Homo sapiens: one gene and its partners. The protein of the gene in region 4 purifies or fractionates together with the protein of the main gene of each other region. This does not show direct contact. Each region holds a gene or a part of one and is shown on either strand. Other genes may lie near its edges. The genes, in order: TXK, ROBO2, TSPAN14, IGSF3, TSPAN5 and QSER1.

The links.
Region 1: the proteins of IGSF3 (region 4) and TXK fractionate together in Homo sapiens (co-fractionation; one large-scale study listed by BioGRID). This does not show direct contact.
Region 2: the proteins of IGSF3 (region 4) and ROBO2 fractionate together in Homo sapiens (co-fractionation; one large-scale study listed by BioGRID). This does not show direct contact.
Region 3: the proteins of IGSF3 (region 4) and TSPAN14 purify together in Homo sapiens (co-immunoprecipitation; one large-scale study listed by IntAct). This does not show direct contact.
Region 5: the proteins of IGSF3 (region 4) and TSPAN5 purify together in Homo sapiens (co-immunoprecipitation; one large-scale study listed by IntAct). This does not show direct contact.
Region 6: the proteins of IGSF3 (region 4) and QSER1 fractionate together in Homo sapiens (co-fractionation; one large-scale study listed by BioGRID). This does not show direct contact.

Annotation. Positions count from the first base shown.
Region 1 is NC_000004.12:48,124,251-48,127,750, forward strand, and holds part of TXK (tyrosine-protein kinase TXK), read right to left. Parts: intron 1-3,500. UniProt on the Homo sapiens protein: Non-receptor tyrosine kinase that plays a redundant role with ITK in regulation of the adaptive immune response. Regulates the development, function and differentiation of conventional T-cells and nonconventional NKT-cells.
Region 2 is NC_000003.12:77,617,099-77,620,598, reverse strand, and holds part of ROBO2 (roundabout homolog 2 isoform 23 precursor), read right to left. Parts: intron 3,087-3,500; coding exon 2,826-3,086; intron 1-2,825. UniProt on the Homo sapiens protein: Receptor for SLIT2, and probably SLIT1, which are thought to act as molecular guidance cue in cellular migration, including axonal navigation at the ventral midline of the neural tube and projection of axons to different regions during neuronal development.
Region 3 is NC_000010.11:80,460,810-80,464,309, reverse strand, and holds part of TSPAN14 (tetraspanin-14), read right to left. Parts: intron 1,223-3,500; exon of another isoform or gene 1,183-1,222; intron 1-1,182. UniProt on the Homo sapiens protein: Part of TspanC8 subgroup, composed of 6 members that interact with the transmembrane metalloprotease ADAM10.
Region 4 is NC_000001.11:116,573,908-116,577,320, reverse strand, and holds the end of IGSF3 (immunoglobulin superfamily member 3 isoform 2 precursor), read left to right. Parts: coding exon 1-9; 3' UTR 10-2,913; downstream 2,914-3,413.
Region 5 is NC_000004.12:98,473,612-98,477,111, forward strand, and holds part of TSPAN5 (tetraspanin-5), read right to left. Parts: intron 2,850-3,500; coding exon 2,802-2,849; intron 2,695-2,801; coding exon 2,578-2,694; intron 1-2,577. UniProt on the Homo sapiens protein: Part of TspanC8 subgroup, composed of 6 members that interact with the transmembrane metalloprotease ADAM10.
Region 6 is NC_000011.10:32,899,311-32,902,810, reverse strand, and holds part of QSER1 (glutamine and serine-rich protein 1), read right to left. Parts: intron 1-3,500. UniProt on the Homo sapiens protein: Plays an essential role in the protection and maintenance of transcriptional and developmental programs.

The DNA of each region.
Region 1 (3,500 bases), on a different chromosome or scaffold from region 4:
GCAGCAACATAACCCCCTCCCTTCTAACACCCACACCACCACCACCTTCCAATTGTGGAAACCCAAGTGTTTCCAGGCATTGCCAAATGTTCCCTGGGGGCAAAATCAACCCCAGTGGAGACACTGGACCAGATTGTAAGCTTCTCAATCTCAGGGACTGCATCTTATCCTTTTTTTTTTATTTTTAATTTTTTTTTTCTGTCTTCTCCCTAGCTTCTAGCATCAGTGCCTGGCACATAACAAAAGCTCAATAAATAACTGTTAAATAAGACCCCACCAATATCAACACCCTTACATTACATCTGAGCTCTTCTTTTTTTCCACTCATTCATCTTATCACCCAGTATTTCACAGTGTGATGCTGGCCACAGAGAAAGCTAAGCTGACCGTGACCTTTTGACTGAGTGGAACGGCAAAGGTGAAGACTGAGCTTCCGGAGCTTTAGCCAGCATTTGTGGGGGCTCATAAGTCTAACCTTTTATTCCAGACATATATTTTTAAACAAATGCTTATCCAAAATAAAGTACCAAACCATGAGATGCCAAATGAAATTATTAAAAACTCTCTGGCATTCAAATGTGTTTGTTTTTTCTTTTCTGTATTAAAAGAACATATGGGGTTCAGCAGGCTTTAGTATCAGGCAGACATGCACTCAAATCACTGTTCCCTTTTCTTGGAGCAACAATGTGATTTTGGGCAATCAAATCTAGAAAACGTAGGTAATAAAAGTTGTCTTCTAAGAAAGGGTTTCCCCACTTCTACCAACACAGCCCTTACCATATGCCAGGCATGACAGATACTTAGATCTTACTATACTACGCCATGCTAACTTACTCACTATACTAACATTATGATCCCCATCTTACACATAAAGAAACAGAGGAACAGAGAGCTTCAGCCATTTATCCAGTCACATAAAAAGCAGCTGAGCCAGAAGTCAAACCCAGAGTCCATGAGCATCACAATAGGACTATCCTTGTGGATGAGAAGATTAAATAAGATTGCAGAGGCAAACATGGCTAGAACATACCAGCTACTCTCAGTTACTTTACCACTTTGTCCCCATCCCCCAGTTCCCTAGAACTCATTCAGCAACTATTTATTGGGTACTCACAAAATACATTTAAGGTAACCAAATAGGAGCAGGTGTGGTTTTCCCTCTGAAGACAAAATGGAGGAAGAAGGCTTAGTAAACGAAAGCGAATCTTCAGCTCCAACTCCTCTCTTCTGAGCCAACTTTATCCCTGACTCAAAGGCAGATGTTTCCCCCGTTCAGGACTCCAGGAGACTCTCTCTCCCTGCTATCAAAGCAGGCCTCAGGAGAGGCTCTCACACTTTTTCTCAGTAAGGTATAAATGACAGACACAATGTTAAATAGTAAACATGCTGTACTGCAGCGCTTCAGCAATGTCATGCTTACTGCAGTGCAGAGGCGTGTACATGTTTGTAAGCATGACATTTGTAACAGTCAGGGTGAACACAGAGAGAGGTTTCTTTTAAGGAACTGGCTCAGGCAGTTGTGGAAACTGGCAAGTCCAAAATCTAACAGGGCAGGCCGGCAAGCTGAAGAATGAGAGAAGAGTTGCAGTTTGAGCCCAAAGGCGGTCTGCTGGCAAAAGTCCTCCTTGCTCAGGGGAGGTCTGACTTTCATTGATTAGGGACTTCAACTGTGGGAGAGGCCCACTCACATGATGGAGGGTGACCCACTGTACTCCAAGTCCACCGATTTAAATGTTAATCTCATCCAAAAATTACCTTCACAGAAACATCCAGAATAATGTTTGATCAAATATCTGGGCACCATGGCCAAGCCATGTTGACCCATAAAATTAACCATCACAACACATTAAATTTAAATAGTTTGACACTTGAAAAACATGGTATAAACATTTACATGAAGATTTTCTTCTGCCTCTGTCACCCCTGAGACAGAAAGACCAATCCCTCCTCTTCATCATCCTTCTCAGACTATTCAACATGAAGATGACGAGGATGAAGGCATTTATCATGAGCCACTTTCACTCCATGAATAGTAAATCTATTTTCTCTTCCTTATGACTTTCTTAAAGCATTTCTTTTCTCTAGCTTACTTTATTGTAAGAATACAGTGTATGATACACATAACATACAAAATACGTGTTGATCAACATTTATGTTATTGAGGCTTCTGGTCAATGTTAGGCTATGAGTAGTTACATTTTGGGGAACCACCTTATTCAAGTGTCAACAACTTTGTGTGTGTGTGTGGTTGTTTGTTTTGTTTTGTTTGAGATGGAGTCTTGCTCTGTCATCCAGGCTGGAGTGCAGTGGCATGATCTCGGCTCACTGCAACCTCCGCCTCCCAGGTTCAAGCGATTCTCCTGCCTCAGCCTCCCAAGTAGCTGGGACTACAGGCACACTCCACCATACCCGGCTAATTTTTTTGGTATTTTTAGTAGAGATAGGATTTCACCACATTGGCCAAGCTAGTCTCAAACTCCCAACCTCAAGTGATCCCCCTCTTTGGCCTCCCAAACTGCTGGGATTACAGGCAGGAGCCACCATGCCTGGCCAAGTCAAGAACTTTGAAAGAGAAATTGCTGTTATCAGTCAGCAGGCAGGAGTATCTGGGACTAGAGAAATGCCTCCCCCAGCTCCCTGACCTCACAACACATGGCCACACCTGATAATATTCCCCTTAGTTGTCTTCACTGTCTTCTGCAGCCTGGAATTTAGGAGAAAATATTTTCAAAAATTCTTATGTTTCCTGATTCAATAGCAAAGACAATGGCCTTTAAAGAAAGATACAGACCTACCCTACCACTGCTTTAATTATGACCCAATTTTATTTAATTTCCCTCAAAGTCCAAGAACAGTGGTGAGCAGGAAGGCAAACCACTGCTTTGTTTGTGGTTCCATCCTCTGCCCAGCAGAGTTGCTGCCCAATAAATAATCATTGCGAGAAGAAAAATCACACTATGAAAGCCAAACAGCTCCCTGGTGTTCCCTTGCTTGGCATGACTTTCCAAGACAGCAGGCATCTTTATTTACAGGTTGAAGTGTTGGGCCAAAATTCATTCCAATGCAGGTATCAAGGAGTATTCATTTCATGATCATTTTCAATTTACAGCAGCACAGGTGTTCCCAGTAAGTAAATAGACAGCGCCCTTCCACAGGCATTCTGTGATTACAGAAGCCATTCTTTGAATTGTTTTGCCGATTAACCTGCAGAGGGAAAGCTCTTGAGCTTTTAGCAAATTCCCAACTTAGGCAGGAACTCATGCATATCAAGGGCCTTTGCCAGAGTGACAAAAATGCCCCAGAGATAGGCAATGACTATTTGCCTGCTGGAAGGAAATGTGGAAAGAATATATTCGGGCTTGAAGATTATCACTGAAGGAGCTGAGCTTCCTCTCCCAGGCTTACATCTGCGCTGTTCTTTTCATCTACTTCTCATTCCTCAGTAAATATCTCTAATGATGAGCCTCAGGCCAGCAAATCAGAAAAAGGGCATCGCATCA
Region 2 (3,500 bases), on a different chromosome or scaffold from region 4:
GGCCCCAAGTTAGTATTCAGCATTCCTCACAGCCTGCTAGTTGAAAAATAGGAAGAAATAGCAAGTTTCCTAAGTATTAGTACAGAAAAGCTTGAGGATAGATGAGCACATCTTGCTATAAATGTTGCCATCAATATGCTTATGAATTGATACCTCTTGATAAAACAAATATACCTTGATGGAATAAAAAATGTACTCCTATTTAAGCAAAATTAAGAGGTAAATTGAAATACAGGAAGAGGACACATAACATTTATAAATATCTTCTAGTGACAGGCACTGTGCTGTTTACTTCACGAATCAATAGAAACAGATCCTGGGAGGTGGAGCCTGGGAATTATTATTTGTTAAACAGTCCTATGATGTTGATGTGCTACCCAGATGGTGAGTCACTTCCAAACCAGAAGCACATGCAAGCTCATAACTCCCAGATGTGGAGTCAGCCAAGGCATTCTGAAAGATTGCTGGTTGAGTAGGAACACACTCAGAAGAAGAAACAGGGTGTCCTCTATGGGTATTTGCAGCAGGTGGAGATGAACTAATTTGTTCATTCTTTTACCAAATATCTATCAAGCATTTACTAAGTGGGACACTCTTCTAAGTGTGGGAAGACAGAAGTGAACAACTCAGGGGTGAAAACCTAGGCCTTTCTAACTAATAACAGCTAATATACAGCCAGGGACAGTAGTATATAAGTTCATACTCATTTCATTCTCACAAAAACTAGGATATGTAACAAAGAATTGAACCTCGACCCAAGAGAGGTTAGGCCTTTGCCCTCTACTCCTGGGAGGTAATCTGTAAGCCCTTAGAATGTCCTGTGGATAAAAGTCTCTCTGCTTACCTAGAGGCCTTAGGCTACTCCAAAAAGCATCGCAATATGATTATGGGGGGGCTTGGAGTTGCATGGTGTCACCTCAGCCTCTGGAGGGGCTGGAAATTGAGGTCAGCCATATGGGTAGTCAACAATGTCTGTGTGACAGAGCCAAAATGAAGTCGCAGGACCTCAAGGAAGGTGTGCCCATCCCTGGCTGGCAATTCTCCATGGTGTGTAATGTCACACCCTTTGTTGGGAAAGTAACGCTATGATTCCACTGAGAGGACAACTGGAAGCTCTACTTTTGGAATTTTCCTGGACCTTGTCCCATGCATTTCTTCTTTTGGCTGATTTTAATGCGTATCTTTTCACTGTAATAGACTGTAGCTTTGAGTGTAAAATCTTTTGGTGAGTTCTATGACTTACTATAGAGAATTCTGAAACTTCAGGGTGGTCTTGGGGACCCTTGAAACTTGTACTTGGTATCAGAAATATAGGTTGTCTTGGGGACTGCCCTCTAATTTCCTATATGAGCTAATTACTATTATCATCACCATCATTTTACACATGGGGAAACTATAGCATATAAATGTTGAGCAAGTTGCCCAAAGTCATGCAGCTAGTAAGACAGGTTCATCTCCACGGCAGTGGTCCCAACCTTGGCTGTCCCATGATCTGGATCAAATTCCAGATCATGGCAGTCAGAATCTTTCTCTGGGAGTGGAGCCCAGGTACCAATATATTTTAAGGTTATCCAAATGGTTCTAAAATGTGGCAAATTTGAGAACCCTTCAGCTTGAGTCTGTGCTTTAGATGACCAAACTGCATTGCTTCATTAGTTAACGTGAAGGAAGCCCTGTGGCTCTTGAAGCAGCTGGCTTCAACTTACATAGTGATGTTTTATTAAAAGCAGATTGATGAAAAATAACAGCGTTTAACGGTAAGTTGTCTTTGACCTTTGAGAAAGCATCTGATGACTGTTGGAAAATGTTCAAGAATATCTTAAGAAAAGAGGCTGTTTGTAATAATCTTTAAGTAATACTCTTCCTTTTGGTATCTCTTTCTATGTATAGTTAGCTGTATTTTAATAATACATACTTCATTAATAATGAGAATAAGAATTATTTATCCCCATGACTAGAACAATTTAAAAAACAAAACAAATACTATTTAAAAAATTTACTCAGACTTCAAGCACAAAGGGTAAATCAACAGAAGAAAATTGGAGTATGACATGGAGCTTTAAAATAGTGATATAAAAGCCTGGGCTTTTGAAAATTAAAATAGAAAGATTGAATAACAAAAATCCTGTATAAAACTGTTAGCGTTAGTCCCATTTATATATCTGTGTTAATTCCACAGGATACCTAGGTAAACTGACACCTGTAGTTTACAAAAGTTTATAGATTAGAAAAAGAAATGTGAAATTTTTGATTTACTCCTGCTTTTTATGCACTTACTGATACTAGTATTGTCTTTTTTTTTCTGTTGCACTTAACTCAGGTAAAGAGAGTCTTTTAATAACTAATACTGACCATATGTGATTTGCAGAAGCTCACATTTACATATTGACAACCACATACAGAATTAATCACAGGCACTTTGAGGAATCTAAAAGGAGTCTTTTATTACATCATGGGATGTGAGTTCAATGATAAGCTAATTGAAGATAAACCATAAATTAGAAAAGATTCTGGTGTAGCCAAGAGCACTTTAGCCTGAAATACAGCAGATTTGAATTCTTGCTCTAGTTCTAGTTTTAGTTCTAGTTCTAGTTACAGTTACAGTTACAGCTCCAGTTCCAGTTCTAGTTCTAGTTCTAGTTCTAGTTTTGGCCAAATTATTTAACATTTCTCAGTGGATACATTTATCTAAATGATTAAGGAGTCATACAAAATCACTTTTAACCCTAGCTGTGTAGTTCTATCAGAATCTCTTGTGAATTTATTCTGAAAAAAATTTCCATGTGTTGAAAGCATGGGTCTCTTGACTTAATGAAGATATTTACCATGTTTGTTTTGCTATATCAAACTGATAGGCTCTTGTCAACTCATCCAGGTGAGCCTGCAGCATGGGTTGCATCTCTTCCCGTGGGGATGGAGTAAGAGTTGCAGTGGACTGCTGTCCAAAGGAGATAGCAGGAGAAGAAGCCACGCCTCGAACAGGAGGTGTTGGGACCCTATCATCATCTTCTTCCAGTTCATCTTCCAGACCTTGGTGTAAGTAAGTTTGTACTGGCAATGGTGGGCACCAGCTATCACTGTCATAGCTGAAATTAAATGAGAAAAATATGCACATTGACACAAATACATATACACATACATGCACACAATTATACTGGCAATAAGTAGCAACCACATGGTATCTGAAATGTTCTCTCGGTTTATTTCTTCCTGAAGCTGTTGGTGTCACCACAGTAAATCACCTGGCTGTTATCTTAATTTCTAATTGTAATTACATCTGTTATCTCAATATCTCAATTTATTCTTAAAAGACCTTTTTAGCTAATTGTTACCCCACAGTTACAAGAGGCAATAACTTCCCAACAAACTTACTCATGTGGAAAAACCAAATTGCTAATTAAAGACAATTAATGAATTTAGTGCTTGTAGATTTAACTGCTTCCTTCTCCTGTTCATACTTGTGCACCATTACATGCCAATATCGCTGATTGATTATCTAA
Region 3 (3,500 bases), on a different chromosome or scaffold from region 4:
GGCTTTTAAAATCACAGGGTGGCAACCAGGCCCAAGGCGGCCTGAACAGGGAGGTGTGCAGAGCAGCGAAAGGCCAAGGGAGGCCAGAGAAGGAGGCCGATCCTCACACCAACCCCTGACACTGCGGGAAAATCTGCTCCTCTAAAAGCTGACGCCAGCTCCAGCTTGCTGCAACCAACGCTCCCCCTTCACACCCCACATAGGTCCTGCAAAGTCGTGAGGTTGCTGGAACCCACTATGAGAAGCCTGCTCCCCGCCTCCCTACACCCCAACTCGCTCTGGCTGACTCCTCACACTTTTAGGGGCACAGGCTGCATGAGCCAGAGGGCCAGCCAAGGGCTGTAAATATGGAGGTCACGGAGACAGGCTGGCCTGAACTGAACCAAAGATGGACTTGGGTGGGAACCAACACGCTGGCACCTCTCATGCCTTCCCAGTAGTTTCTCCAGCTCTTGTCTCTGTAGAAGGCCAAGATCCCTCCAAAAGAAAACTTTGTAAACTTTCATTCCCCCTTTCGGAATCAAAGCCGCATGTTTCTTTTCCTTTTACACACCTAATGCAGTAACTCCACATCTAGTCATTTCCACTACAGACCTGCAGCATGCATAAGACACTCCTGCAGCTTAGCCTATAGAAACAAAACACTGAAAGCAACCTCAAAATCCATCAATAGAGAGCTGGTAAAGTGAGTCATCATTCACTGTGCAGCAGAATCATGCACTGCTGTTAAAAAGAATGGACTAAACTATGTGTGCTAAAATGGAACAATCCTGGGATAAATTCTCAGAGTAAAAATCAGGAAGTGCAAAACAGCATAATTAGTATACCACTGGGGTAATAAACAAGAGAGGAATACAGTCATGCTTGACTAGGCACTGAACATCTGGTGACAGCGGCCTCAGGGGAGCAGAACTGAAGGGGTCAGGGATAGAAATAGGAGTTTTCACCGTGTATCTTTGTTATGTGTTTTTCATCATGTATACATTTTTGTAAATAAAAATGTTAAACCTAAATTAATATTTAAAATGCCTAAAGTTTGTGGCTGGACACACAATTTTACCCGTAGCTGTCTGCAGGCAGCTTCTGGTGTTTCCCTAGAACAAGGCAGAGTAATGGGGAGGGGAAACGAAACAAGGGGAAGGAGGGGGTCAGGCAGTGGCAGCCTCAGGGATACAGACTCACCAACTCACAGGGCTCCCTGCTTTCGACTCCACCCCAAGTCCTGAAATAGAAAGTTTTCCTAAGAAGAGCAAGAACAGATTCTGACAAAGGCACAAAAGAAACCAGACCATCTGCTGCCAAGCCCACTTCATGATAAATCTGTAAGACCCTAAGATTCAGGCAATGTAGGCGATGCAGGAGACGGGACTGAAACCCAGGCATCCCGGGCATCCACAGGGACCCTTCTCTGAGCCCTCCCCACTCAGTCATCAGTGGAGCTCGAGGTCCTAGTGCTATGAACACATCCCAGTTTCAGCAACTAAAGAAAGCTATTTCAACAGATTTCTAGGCCTGGCCCAATTCCAAGGACAGGCTAAAAACAGTTTCTCCAAAATCCCAGCTCAAAACCCCATTCCCTAACCACTAAACTCCATGTACCTTCCAGGAAATGGAAGCTGCAAAATGGAGCTGTGAGATGCACTTGTAGATTTATTCCTCACTAAAGAGATACATATATGTTGTTTAAAAGCTTCCTTTAACTGACGTGTCAATAAATACTCTGCACTCAGAAGCACTGATATACTTCCTCCAAGTGATTTTTCCCCCTAAGGAACAATACAAAAACCATTCCAGCCTTTCCTGCTGCTGAGGGGAATGACACAATGACCATTAGAACCAGGACTGGCCAGACCATTTGAGTGAGAGATGTGTATGGCAGGGAGTGCTGCATAAACAGAACTCTATCTATGTAGAATAACTCCTCCACCCCACCCCACCCCATCCCATCCCATCCCACCCCATTCCTACGCCCTAGGCCACCAGGGCGGACAGAAATAAACACCTCCTAATGACCTCAAGCTCAAAGACCGCCCAGACCACAGGGAAAGAAGGCCAGAGAGGGGGAATGGGTATATTTGGTTCCCCTTACAGAATAAGATGCTTTCTGAAGACTGCTAAATATGTTCAATAAGTAGCCCCTGAATTAAGAAGCACAAATCAAGTGCCCAGGAGTTTGACACCAGCCTAGGCAACATAGCAAGATCCAATCTCTACAAAAAATTCTTTAAATTAGCTGGGTGTGGTGCTGCATGCCTGTGGTCCCTGCTACTCAGGAGGCTGAGGCGGGAGGATCACTTGAGCCAGGAAGGTGGAGGCCTCAGTGAGCTGTGATAGGGCCACTGCACTCCAGCCTGGGCAACAGAGTGAGACCCTGTCTGAAGGAAAAAAAAAAAAGGCACAAATGAGATCTCACAACAGTGAGAACCATACTGGCACCTGAAGCCCTCGTATCTCTTTCTGCTCCTCTCGGTGGCTCAGTGCAAGCCCTCAGCAGGTCTTGCCTGTAATCCCACAATCCTCTGTGAAACCAAGACCAGCCCCTCTCCAACCGTCTTTCTGCAGGAGTGAGCAGAGCCCAACCCAGGCACTAATCTTCAACACACCAAATCCTGGCACCTGCCTTTGCCACCTCATCAGTCATGCCATGGAGGGGAGCGTCAGGGCTACCCTACACCAGAGGAGCCCTCAACTAAACCTGCCCGCCCCACCCCATCCTGGGCACATGCCACTTGTTCCTCTTTGCTCACACACTTAGCACCCCAGAGCCCTTGGGAATGAATCCCCCACCACTACCACCAACTCTGATTTTGGCATGCCCCCCTCAAAAACCTATCCACGTTTATACCATCACTTGTATTTCACAAGAAGCTACTAGAGTTACAAAACACAATGACTGTGGTAGGCAGGATGGCTGCAGAGAGCAGGGTTCTGGCACCACCACTGTTCCACTGCAAGGGTGGAAGCTGGCTACAGAGCCTTTAGGAAGGAGGGAAGGCCCCATCCACAGCCGACAGGTTTTCCTTACAACAGCAAGGGCCTGGTTCCTGAAAAGCTGACTGTTGAGACAAGATCAGCCTCAAGAAAAGGAGGCAGGCCAAACAGGGTCACCTGTGCAGGGTAGGCTGGAGGGAGCCGGCCCTCAAGAGAGGCAGAGTCTGATCAAGTAGACAGGAGGGCCAGAGAGAAAAGGAGGAGCCTCACTCATGGAGGAGGAACAAGGTAGGCTGGAGGCAGGGACTTGTAGGCCTCAGACAGAAGGAAGCTGGTGAAGCTCCCATAGGCAAAATGCCCAGGAGCTCCGGCTAGAAGGCAGCAGGAGTGTGCAGTCCAGGCAAGAGGAAGAGATCCCCCACAGCACCTCCCTCTGCCCAGCTCAGACAAATGGGACAGTCAATCCCCAGGCTGATGGAGGCGGGAGCGAGAACCACAAAGTTGTCAGACTGGTTTGCCCAGGACAGGGAGAGCAGGGAACACAAATTGCAGCAGGAGCTCAGCTTCAG
Region 4 (3,413 bases):
ATAGACTAAGCGGGTGATGCCCCAGCGGATGTTGGCCACGGAGGAGCTGAGGCTCTCCCTTTCTCTGTGATTGGACAGTTGACAGCACCCAAACTCTGGGGTGCATGTGTGTGGAAAGTTGTCAGACTTGAAAAGTGTTCCAAGTTCCCAGTCAGTCACAGAGACAGACTGCCTCTCGGTGGCAGTCTTGGTTGGTTAGCTATTTGCGCGCAAATGTTGTGATCCTGCCATTATAGATTTCTTGTTTCTGTTTTTAGTAATGTAGTGAGTAGCTCCAGGTGCCACATCTACTCACAGATTTATCTAGTATTCTCAGATAGATGTTACAGGGCTTCTTATTCTTTGTAATGTACTCTTTTTAAATCCCTTTAGTTTACCCTTTTTGGATTCCTTAATGTGGACGAATTTCTCTTACGTACAACTGACAGCAAAAGGAAGGGCGAACTTTCTAGTGACAAGGAATCTCTTCCAAGACTTTGTTTTTGCACATTTGAAAATGCCACCCATGGATCAAAATATACCCAAACGTTTTTTACTTTCTTAACAAGACTTAAGAATTGTGTGTAGTGTGGGCAAAATTTGTATGTTGTCTTTTCCCTCAGCTGGAGTTATTGGAACCACTTTGTAGTCAAGACGAAAGCACTGAATTTTGCTTCAAAGAACTGTGTATGTACAAGAGAAATCCTGCATAACCCCATTAGGAGTAGATGGTGCCCGGCCTATCTGTCAGGGAGGCAAAAAAGGCTTCATCCCATCCTTGCCAAAAAATAAGAAAACTGTCTTGGAGAATGGGTCAGAAGCCCCAAACGGCACACACTTTCCAAATTAAAGTGGGCAGGGGCTGCTTTTAGCAGCTGCTGACCTGCAGATTTGTCAAAGCCAGTGACTAGAGAAGGAAGGGAGAAAGGCTGGCTGTTGGCTTGCTCTGAGCTGCAAGGATGGTCTCTAACTGATTAACTGTGAGCAGGTGGGCCTGTGTCTTCAGGTGCTTTGCCAAACTCTTAAAAGAAAGTGTCCAGTGAACTTGGAAGTGGGCCCCTGAGCTGAGCACAGGGCCAAAGCAGCCATGGCAGACACCTGACGGAGGGCACGGGGCTGGCTGACACTAAGTTTGGTGGGACAGTGAGGGGTGGGAGGGGGGTTTCCAGGGCCTGGTGTTGGAGAGTGCAGAGAAATATCTACCTCCCTGGAGGTGTGAAGACTAGGTTTTTCTTCTTCCTTCCAATTAGATTTTCCTTAATTATAGTGATGTCTTCCTTATTCATTTTTCTCTCCCTGCCTCTCACTGCCATAAGAATATCAGCCTGGGGGCAGTCCAGACGCAGCCCTTTGTCATCCTTTCTGTTTGCCTAGTCTCAGCAGACTGTGATCACAAGGCATTGTCTGTGGGATTTTTCCTTTCCCTTTCTTGATCTCTCTTGTGGTTCTAGGTTGTTTGGTTGTTCATTGTTATGGTGGCTTTTTATTTTAACGCCCCTTGAGCCCCATGATGGCTGGTGTCACCCTGTTCTTTTACACTGTTGGGCCAGGTGCTGCTTGTCCTTCTTAGGGCATCATCAATTGCAAATATTTCCTTTTGCTCCCTTTATGAAGATGTTCTTATACCCTTGCTTTCCCATATTTTTCTGGCCAAGCATGCCATCTCCTTTACTCTGGGAACTTACATCCTGAATCCCAAGAGGGGGTCACAGTTTGGAAAAAGTCATCAGGGATTCTGGAACTAAGTCTGATAAAAGATTCCAGTGAAGCCCTGTTCTGAGAACGAGCAGACTGCAGGGGAGGCCATGGGATTCCCCAGGCCAGTGTCTGTGCTGATCCTTCAAGGGTCTGCAGGTATGCAGGTGGCCTGGGCTGCTCGGCAGATACTTTGCTGATTCCCAGCTGAGGGGAGCATGGTGGCGATTGCTCAGCCATTTTCTGACAGACACACAGACCTGCCTTTTCTCCCCCAAGTATACCGTACCCTCCTGTGAGACAGTGTGTGCAGGCACCACCACCTTAATCCTGCTGTTGCCTGACATGCTGATTCTCATTTATTATGCTGCATCAACACATTAGAGGTACAGGAGCGGCTCAGTCATGAAAAAAGAAGGTCTTTTGCCCCATTTCTTTATTTCAGAGATGTGGGCTTTCAGTGGGAATTTGCTGACTCCTACTTTATAGGCTGAGTCAATGAGGGAAGATGACTGGCGTTTCCTCTGTCTAAATGGGAGGTTGCCAGAGCGCTGGCTGGGACTAGGATGTGTAACTAAGATTTCAGTTTGAAATCTTAGATTTCAGTTCACGGCGATAAAGAAGTAGGTGCTGCACACAAATATGTAAAGCAATTGTAGGAAATTTGAAAGGAAAAAAAGAAACCGAAGCCAGTATTTTAATAATTGCTTTTTCTGTGTATTTTGTATTGGGCTGGGGGATAGCATCAAAGGTTGAACTTTTTGAGCTTTCTATGAAAAACCCCAGGACCTTCTTTCTTTGGCCATTTCTATGGAAATGCGATGTCAGATGGATGGTAATGGTGCCCTCCAGTGGCTGTGAGACCTCATTGCGCATTGTCTACTGGAGCTTTAGTCTTCTGAGACGGAGGAAAACTGCTGAATACTCTGGATTCATCTATGTCTACAATGTTGCATTTATGAAAAACTACACTGTGCTAGGCGCATTCTAGGACATGAATATGACCACACCCTCTTTCACCGGGTGTTTCTGTAGCAAGTTTTCATATTCTTTTCAAACAATGGTTTCTCTGCGTTAATTATTGAGGAAAAAAAAAGATGGGGTAAGAAAACTACCCATGCATGATGTAGAGAGCTGTTGATTTGTTTCTGTTTTTTTAAAGGAAAACTATTTGTAAGATGTTGCACTAAAACATTTTATATACACTTCAGAGACCTGTAGTAAATTATGTTGAAAATACGGCTGTTTACATTTACTGCAGTCTTCTATCCTTCTTTCCCCTTACTAACCAGCCCCCTTCCTCTGTGGAACTGTGCTGTGGGAGCCTACAGTTCTGCCCTTGGCATTGGCCTGCTAGGCTCAAGGTCTGTGAATTGCAGTCTTTATTATTACACCCCATAACCTTCAAATGATAAAAACACCTCTTCCTCAAGACACTTCACTGCCATCTGCTGCAACATATAGTAAATAGACACCTCCACCCCGATGATCAAGGCTATGCTACCTCTAGAGCTGTGCAACACACAACACACCTAGCCCCTGAAAGCCAGGTTCAGAATGTAGATCTTATAACCTGTAGCGTTTTTGTTGGGGGGTGGGGTGGGGGTAGAAGCCGGATGAGAAGGAGAGCAGGAACACAGGATGGCCTTCTCTAGGGCCTCTGCGGCAAGTCCACACCATCCTTTTCCAACTATGAAGTGCTGCCCTGGCCATGAAATGCAGCGGGGATTTCCCAGAAT
Region 5 (3,500 bases), on a different chromosome or scaffold from region 4:
ACCGCGCCCGGCTAATTTTTTGTATTTTTAGTAGAGACGGGGTTTCACCTTGTTAGCCAGGATGGTCTCGATCTCCTGACCTCATGATCCACCCGCCTCGGCCTTTATTAGCAATTTTAATCTTTAGAGAAATGTCTGTTCAGATCCTCTGCCCGTATTTTTGTTTGTTTGTTTGTTTTTTAATAATTTAAGGGACTGGGTTTTGCTCTGTTGCCCAGGCTGGAGTACAGTGGCGTGATCATAGCTCAGTGCAGGCTCCTGCCTCTGCTTCCCAAGCAGCTGGGATTACAGGGACAAGTCACCATGCCTGGCTGCCCATTTTTAAGTTGTTTGTCTTTTTATTGTTGACTTTTTAAAGTTCTTTATTTTTCTAGATACTAGGAGTTATCTTTTCACTGTCTTGATGGTATCATTTTCAGCACAGTTTTAAATTTTGAAGTCCAATTTATTTACATTTGTTTCATTGCTTATGCTTTTGATGTCATATCTAAGAAGACACTGCTTAATCCAAAGTCACAAATATTTATGCCTATGTTTTCTTCTGGAGTTCTATAGCATTAGCTCTTATATTTAGGTCTTTGCTTTATTTTGAGTTAATTTTTACATATGGTGTGAGTTAGTCTAAATTCATTATTTTGCATATCTAGTTTTCCCAGTACCATTTGTTGAAATGACTGCTCTTTCCCTATTGAATGGTTTTGGTTCCCTTGTCAAAAATCAACTGACCATATACGTACGAGCTTATTTCATCTTCTTTTTTGAGATAGGATCTTGCTCTGTCACCCAGGCTGGAGTGCAATGGCATGATCTCAGCTCACTGCAACCTCCCAGGCTCAAGTGATCCTCCCTCCTCAGCCCCCCAAGTAGCTGGGACCACAGGCATGCGCCATCATGCCCAGCTAACTTTTGTATATTTTGTAGAGACAGGGTTTTGTCATGTTGCCCAGGCTGTTTTGAAACTCCTGAGCTCAAGTGATCCACCTGACTCAGCCTCCCAAAGTTCTGGAATTACAGGCATGAGCCACTGCACCCGGCCTTATTTCTTCTTTTTAATCATATATATTTTTTTCTTATTTTTTTGAGACAAGGTCTTGCTCTGTCACCCAGGTTAGAGTGCAGTTGCATAATCACGACTCACTGCAGCTTCAACCTTCTGGGCTCAAGCAATCCTCCCACTTCAGCCTGCTGAGTAGCTAGGACCACAGGCATGTGCCATTACATTTGGCTAATTTTTTTATTTTTACTTTTTGTAGAGACAAGGACTTGCTATGTTGCTCAGGCTGGTCTTGAACTCCTGGGCTCAAGCCATCCTCCTGCCTTGGTCTCTCAAAGTGCTGGGATTACATCCATGAGCTACCACACCTGGCCTGGTTTTATTTCTTGATTTTTCAATTTTATTCCACTTCTCTATATGGCTAATCTTACTCAAGTACACACTATGTTGATTACTATATAGCTTTGTACTAAGTTTTGAACTGGGTAGTGTGAATTCTCCAACTTTGTTTTACTTTTGCAAATTTGTTTTGGCTATTATGGGTCCCTTGCTTTTCCATATGAATTTTAGGATCAGCTTGTCCATTTTTGCTAAAAAGGTGGTTACAATTTTGATAGGGATTACACTGAATCTGTAGATCAACTTGATGAGTGTTGTTACCTTAATAATATGAAGTTTTGCAATTGTGAACACAGGATATCTTTATATTTACTTAGGTCTTCTTTAATTTGTTTCAACTATGTGCTCTTTGGAAAGTATCACACCAACAACATGAAGAGTCCAGCTCTTAAGACTGGCCAGGAGGAAAAGTGGGTGCTCCCTTCCTTCACTAGCACTTTGGCAAGGTAGTTTAGGGAGAGAAAGGGGTATGACATCTCTGTGAAACTTCCCAAAACCTTAACGTCACCACTGAGATCTACTTCTAACTATGCATGTTTGACTCAGTTGCCACAATGCAGTATTTTTGAGCCCATGTAAACGATGGAATGCCAGTAGGCAACCACTATCTAATTAATGTCTCCATCTTAGAAAAAGACAAGGTTTCCTAAAGTATTTCATGATAGTAGCATCTAAACTCAGAGCTTTAATAAAACACAAATCAGGCCAGGCACGGTGGATCACTCCTGTAATCCCAGCACTTTGGGAGGCCGAGATGGGCGGATCACGAGGTCAGGAGATCGAGACCATCCTAGCTAACACGGTGAAACCCCGTCTCTATTAAAAATACAAAAAAATTAGCCGGGCGTAGTGGCGGGCACCTGTAGTCCCAGCTACTCGGGAGGCTGAGGCAGGAGAATGGCATGAACCCAAGAGGCGGAGCTTTCAGTGAGCCAAGATCATGCCACTGCACTCTAGCCTGGGCGACAGAGCAAGACTCCATCTCAAAAAAAAATTAATAAATAAAATAAATAAATAAATGAATAAAATAAAACACAAACCAAATCGTTTAGGTCTGTTCCTCAGCCCTCCAATGTGTCTTAAAAACTATGACAATCAAGGTTTTTAAGCAAAGCTCCGATCCTGGCAAGGGCTCTCCCAGGGCATTATTTCCCTGTGATATCCATAAAGGACCCTTATCTTACCTGCAGCAATGCAATGCCTATGAAAATACCAGCAACGATGGTTAAATTGTCCTGCAACCACTTCTCAAACTGGGGCACACAGCCTTTCGTGTAGATTACAATCTGCTGGTCAACTTCCTTCACAAGAGAAGAGGAGAGCACATTGTCACAGATAGAGCACCAGGCACAGGCCAAAGCTCCTCCAACACCCTTCGTGCTAAGCAACAACATGAGATTCCACTTACTGGTTTTTGCCTGGCATCATAGCCACACTGAGTGTTGATGACATCTTCCTGGTGAAGAAAGGAAAGAGAAAAGTGAAATTTACTCATTAGACAGAAAGCCCACCTAGAAATGAGCAGAAGACTTCTGTTACGCATTAGTAATAAAATGTGTATCTGGGCACAAAGACTGCAGCACTATGTTAAACACTTTATATACATGATCCCATGTCATTATTGCGACAATCTTCAGAAGTAGGTATTAAAATATGCCCTATTTTACAAATAAGGAAAACTAAGGCTTGGGGAATATCAGAAAAGACAGCAAGTCTATCACACAGGAGGCTCAAGATTCAAAGTGGTGCCAACCTCAAGAAGCTTATGGGATTTAGGGAACTGGAGACACAGATAAAAAACATAAAGGGCACAGTGAATCTTCATGTATGCTCTTTTGGATGGACTGCTACTTTTTAATCTATGTACTTCCATGTTACTTAAATTGTTTTTCAATGAGCTTTTAATAATTAAAAAACAAAACAATGCCCCGACCACATAATCACACAGACAACCTGACGTCTCACAGGGTCTGATCAGAAACATGGTTCCACTTTTTCGGGTTGTTTATTTTCCTTCTCTGCGGGGTGTGGGGCAGATTTTATTAGCTTAGAGCGCAAGGAATGAGCTAGCTCTGCCCAGAGGATCTGTAGGTGAAAGGGGAAGCAT
Region 6 (3,500 bases), on a different chromosome or scaffold from region 4:
TGAGATAACACTATAAAATTATTAGGCCAGTGCTCAGCACATAGTAGGCATGTAATAGACACTATCACCTACAATGGCAAAGGCTCAGTTCTCAGCCCTTCATTCTTCACCCTCAAAGACCTTAATCTCTGAGATTCCACTATTGTCTCTATACACATGTCCAGTCAGACTCCTAAACTCACCTGTCTGGTCTTGTCAGCTAAGGAAAAATACTTTGGGGAAAACAGAAGCGTTGGAACAAAGGAAACCTGGTGGGACTTTAGATCTGGTGCTCAAGGAAGTTCTTTGCGAAGAGATGATATTTAAGGAGATAAGAATGTCAAGAAGCCAACACTGACAAGATCCAGGTCAGTGGTTCTCAAAATCTCCTCACTGGACAAGCAGCATAAGAATCACCTACAAACTTGTTAGAAATGCAAATTCTTGAGCTCCACCCAAGACCTATGGATTCAGAAACTCTGGAGTTGGGCCCAGCAACCTGTGTTTCAACAAGCCCTCTGGGTGGTTCTGAAGTACCACTGAGCTACAGCAAGATCCTGCCAGGGAAGGGAACTGCCAGGCTTGTTCCTGCCTTGCGACATTTGCACTTGCTGCTTCCTCAGATCTCAGGGAAGTGCACTTCCTCTAGGAGAAAATTTTCTCAATAATTTGCCTGCCCGACTCCTTCACCCAAGAATGTAAACTCCACAAGAACAGAGATTTTATGTGGATTTTTTTGTTGTGTTTTTGAGACAGGTCTCACTCCCTATGCCCACACTGGAGTGCAGTGGCACAATCATGGCTGACTGCAGCCTCCACCTCCCAGGCTCAAGCGATCCTCCCACCTCAGCCTTCTAAGTAGCTGGGACCACAGGCGCATGCCACCATGCCAGGCTAATTTTTGTATTTTTGTGGAGACGGGGTTTCACCATGTTGCCCAGGCTGGTCTCAAACTCCTGAGCTCAAGCCATCAGCCCATCTCAGCATCCCAAAGTGCTGGGATTATGGGCACAAGCCACCACGCCTGGCCATTCCCTATCCTTTAGAGTGGAGAGACTAAACTCCATGATCTGTCATCAGAAGCCCTCTAAAATCTAGTACCAACGCTCTGTGGTACAGTGTTACTCTGGTGAGCTCCCCAATGAACCACACCTTTGTGTAGTTTCCCTCCCATGACAATTCTGCAATGGACCAGGGACTGCTTTGACCAACAGACTGGCAGAAGTGATGCTGTGCCAGTTCAAGGCCCAGCCCTTAACTGGCCTAGCAGATTCCATTTCCTCCCTCTTAGAACACTTATTCTTAGGAGCTCCTTCTTTGTACTAATCCCTTATTCCACTATGCAACATTAGCAATAATTCAGATCAGTTTGTATGCAATCTACTTGACAAATGCTACCATGATCCCCTTGAACTCAATATAATTTTCCCCACTAAGTCCCTGAATTATTTTTGTACCTCTGGAATAGTCTGGCAAGTATTAATAGCAGTTATTTCATTCATTCATTGAATGTTTAATGGCACAATGCATCAGACATTTTTCTCAGTGCTGACAATAAAGTTAATAATCTATATGCTATCCTATATGCTAGACATCACTCTAAATACTTTTCTAAGTTTTTCCATTTAATCTTCAAGAATTCTAAGTGTCCTCATTTTACATAAGGAAACTGAGGCACAGAGAGGTTAAGAAACTTGTCTAAGATCATACTGCAAGTGGTGGAGTCAAAATACAAACTCAAACATTATAACTCCAGAGCTTATGCTATCAACTACTATACTAACCTGCCTTGTACAGATGTGAACAAGACAAAGAGCCCTGTTCTCATGGAACATGCATTCTATCAGTGATGGTTAGTGGTATCGGGAAAGGGTGGTAATAAACGATACATATAAATCAACAAAATTACTCCAGAGAGTGAGAATGCTCTGAAGAGGTAAAACTGTCATGTGTCAGTGATGTGCAGTTACTTTAGACAGGGCAGTCAGAGAAGGCCTTTCTGAGAAGGTAACATGTGGGGAAAGACCTAACAATCAGCAAAAGCAGAAGCAGCAAAGCAAAGACCTGCAAAGAAAACTTCAGTTAAAGAGAATAGCCGGTGCAAAAGTCCTAAGACACAAATAATCTTAGCATGTTTCAGGAACAGAAGTAAAGCCAGTATGGCTGAAGGATGGTGGTGGGAGGGGAATGACATGAGGTTGGAGAAATTAGCTGAGGCTTAGATCATGCAGGGCTTTGTAGGCCACGATAAGTCATTCGATTTTTTTTTTTTTAAGATGGAGTCTTGCTCTGTCACCTAGGCTGGAGTGCAGTGGTGTGATCTCAGCTCACTGCAGTCTCCGCCTCCTGAGTTCCAGCTATTCTCCTGCCTCAGCCTCCCGAGTAGCTGGGACTACAGGCACCTGCCACCATGCCCAGCTGATTTTTGTATTTTTAGTAGAGACAGGGTTTTGCCATGTTGGCCAGGCTGGTTTTGAACTCCTGGCCTCAAGTGATCCTGCCTCAGTCTCCCAAAGTGCTGGGATTACAGGTATGAGTCACCACACCTGACCAAGTCATTGGATTTTACTGATTAACACTGGAAGGTTCTAAGCAGGGTAATGACATTACCTGACCTATACTTTTGAAAAGTTAATTCTGGCTGTTGCATACTTAATAAATTACAGAAGGCCTAAAAGGAGGCAAGAAAAGCAACAGGAGGCAACTGCAATTATCCATGCAGGAAATTATGGATATGGAGATTGAACCAACAGGATTTGCTGAGGGACTCAATATGGGAAGGAATGAAATGAATCATGGATGGCTCTAACCTTCTGGACATAAGCAATGGAGTAAATGGTGATAATAATTACTGAGGTGGGGAAGGCTAGAGGAGGCCCAGGTTGAGAGGGTGACAATCATGTTTTGGATATGTCATTTTGGAAATACCTATTCAATATTCAAATGAAGATGTCAGATGCTAGATATGAATCCAGAGATGTAAATTTGAAAGTCATCTCACATATATGGCAACTACACCTAGGGTCAGTGGAGAGAAAAGAAAAAAGGACAGAACTCCAAGTTTCTGAGCACTTCAACATTTAGAAGCCAAGCAGAGAGGAAGCAAGTGCATTACCCTCTCACCCTCCAGATCACAAGTTCTTTCAGAGGCAAGACAGTGTTTTTTTTTTCATTTTTGTGGCACCCTGCAGAACTCAGCTGAGAAACAGAAACTGAGAGATGGCCACTACATTTTAATGAGTGATTGCATGCTTGTCACTTGATTTCTCAAGCTTTCACTGCAGAAATATAACTCAAGGAGATACAGGTAACACTGCCTTAACAATTGCAGGTACTCAAATATTTGTTTAATGAATAAAAGAAAACTGTGTTTTGGTAGACATACTTTAGTACTCATTGTTCCAGAGAACATACCAAGGAAAGGAAGAAACAAGTAGTAGCCCATATCCCCACCCTGCTAACCAAAGATAATCACAAACTTACCCTTCATCTTGGTCCCAACTACAGGGTAGAGGGGGAAT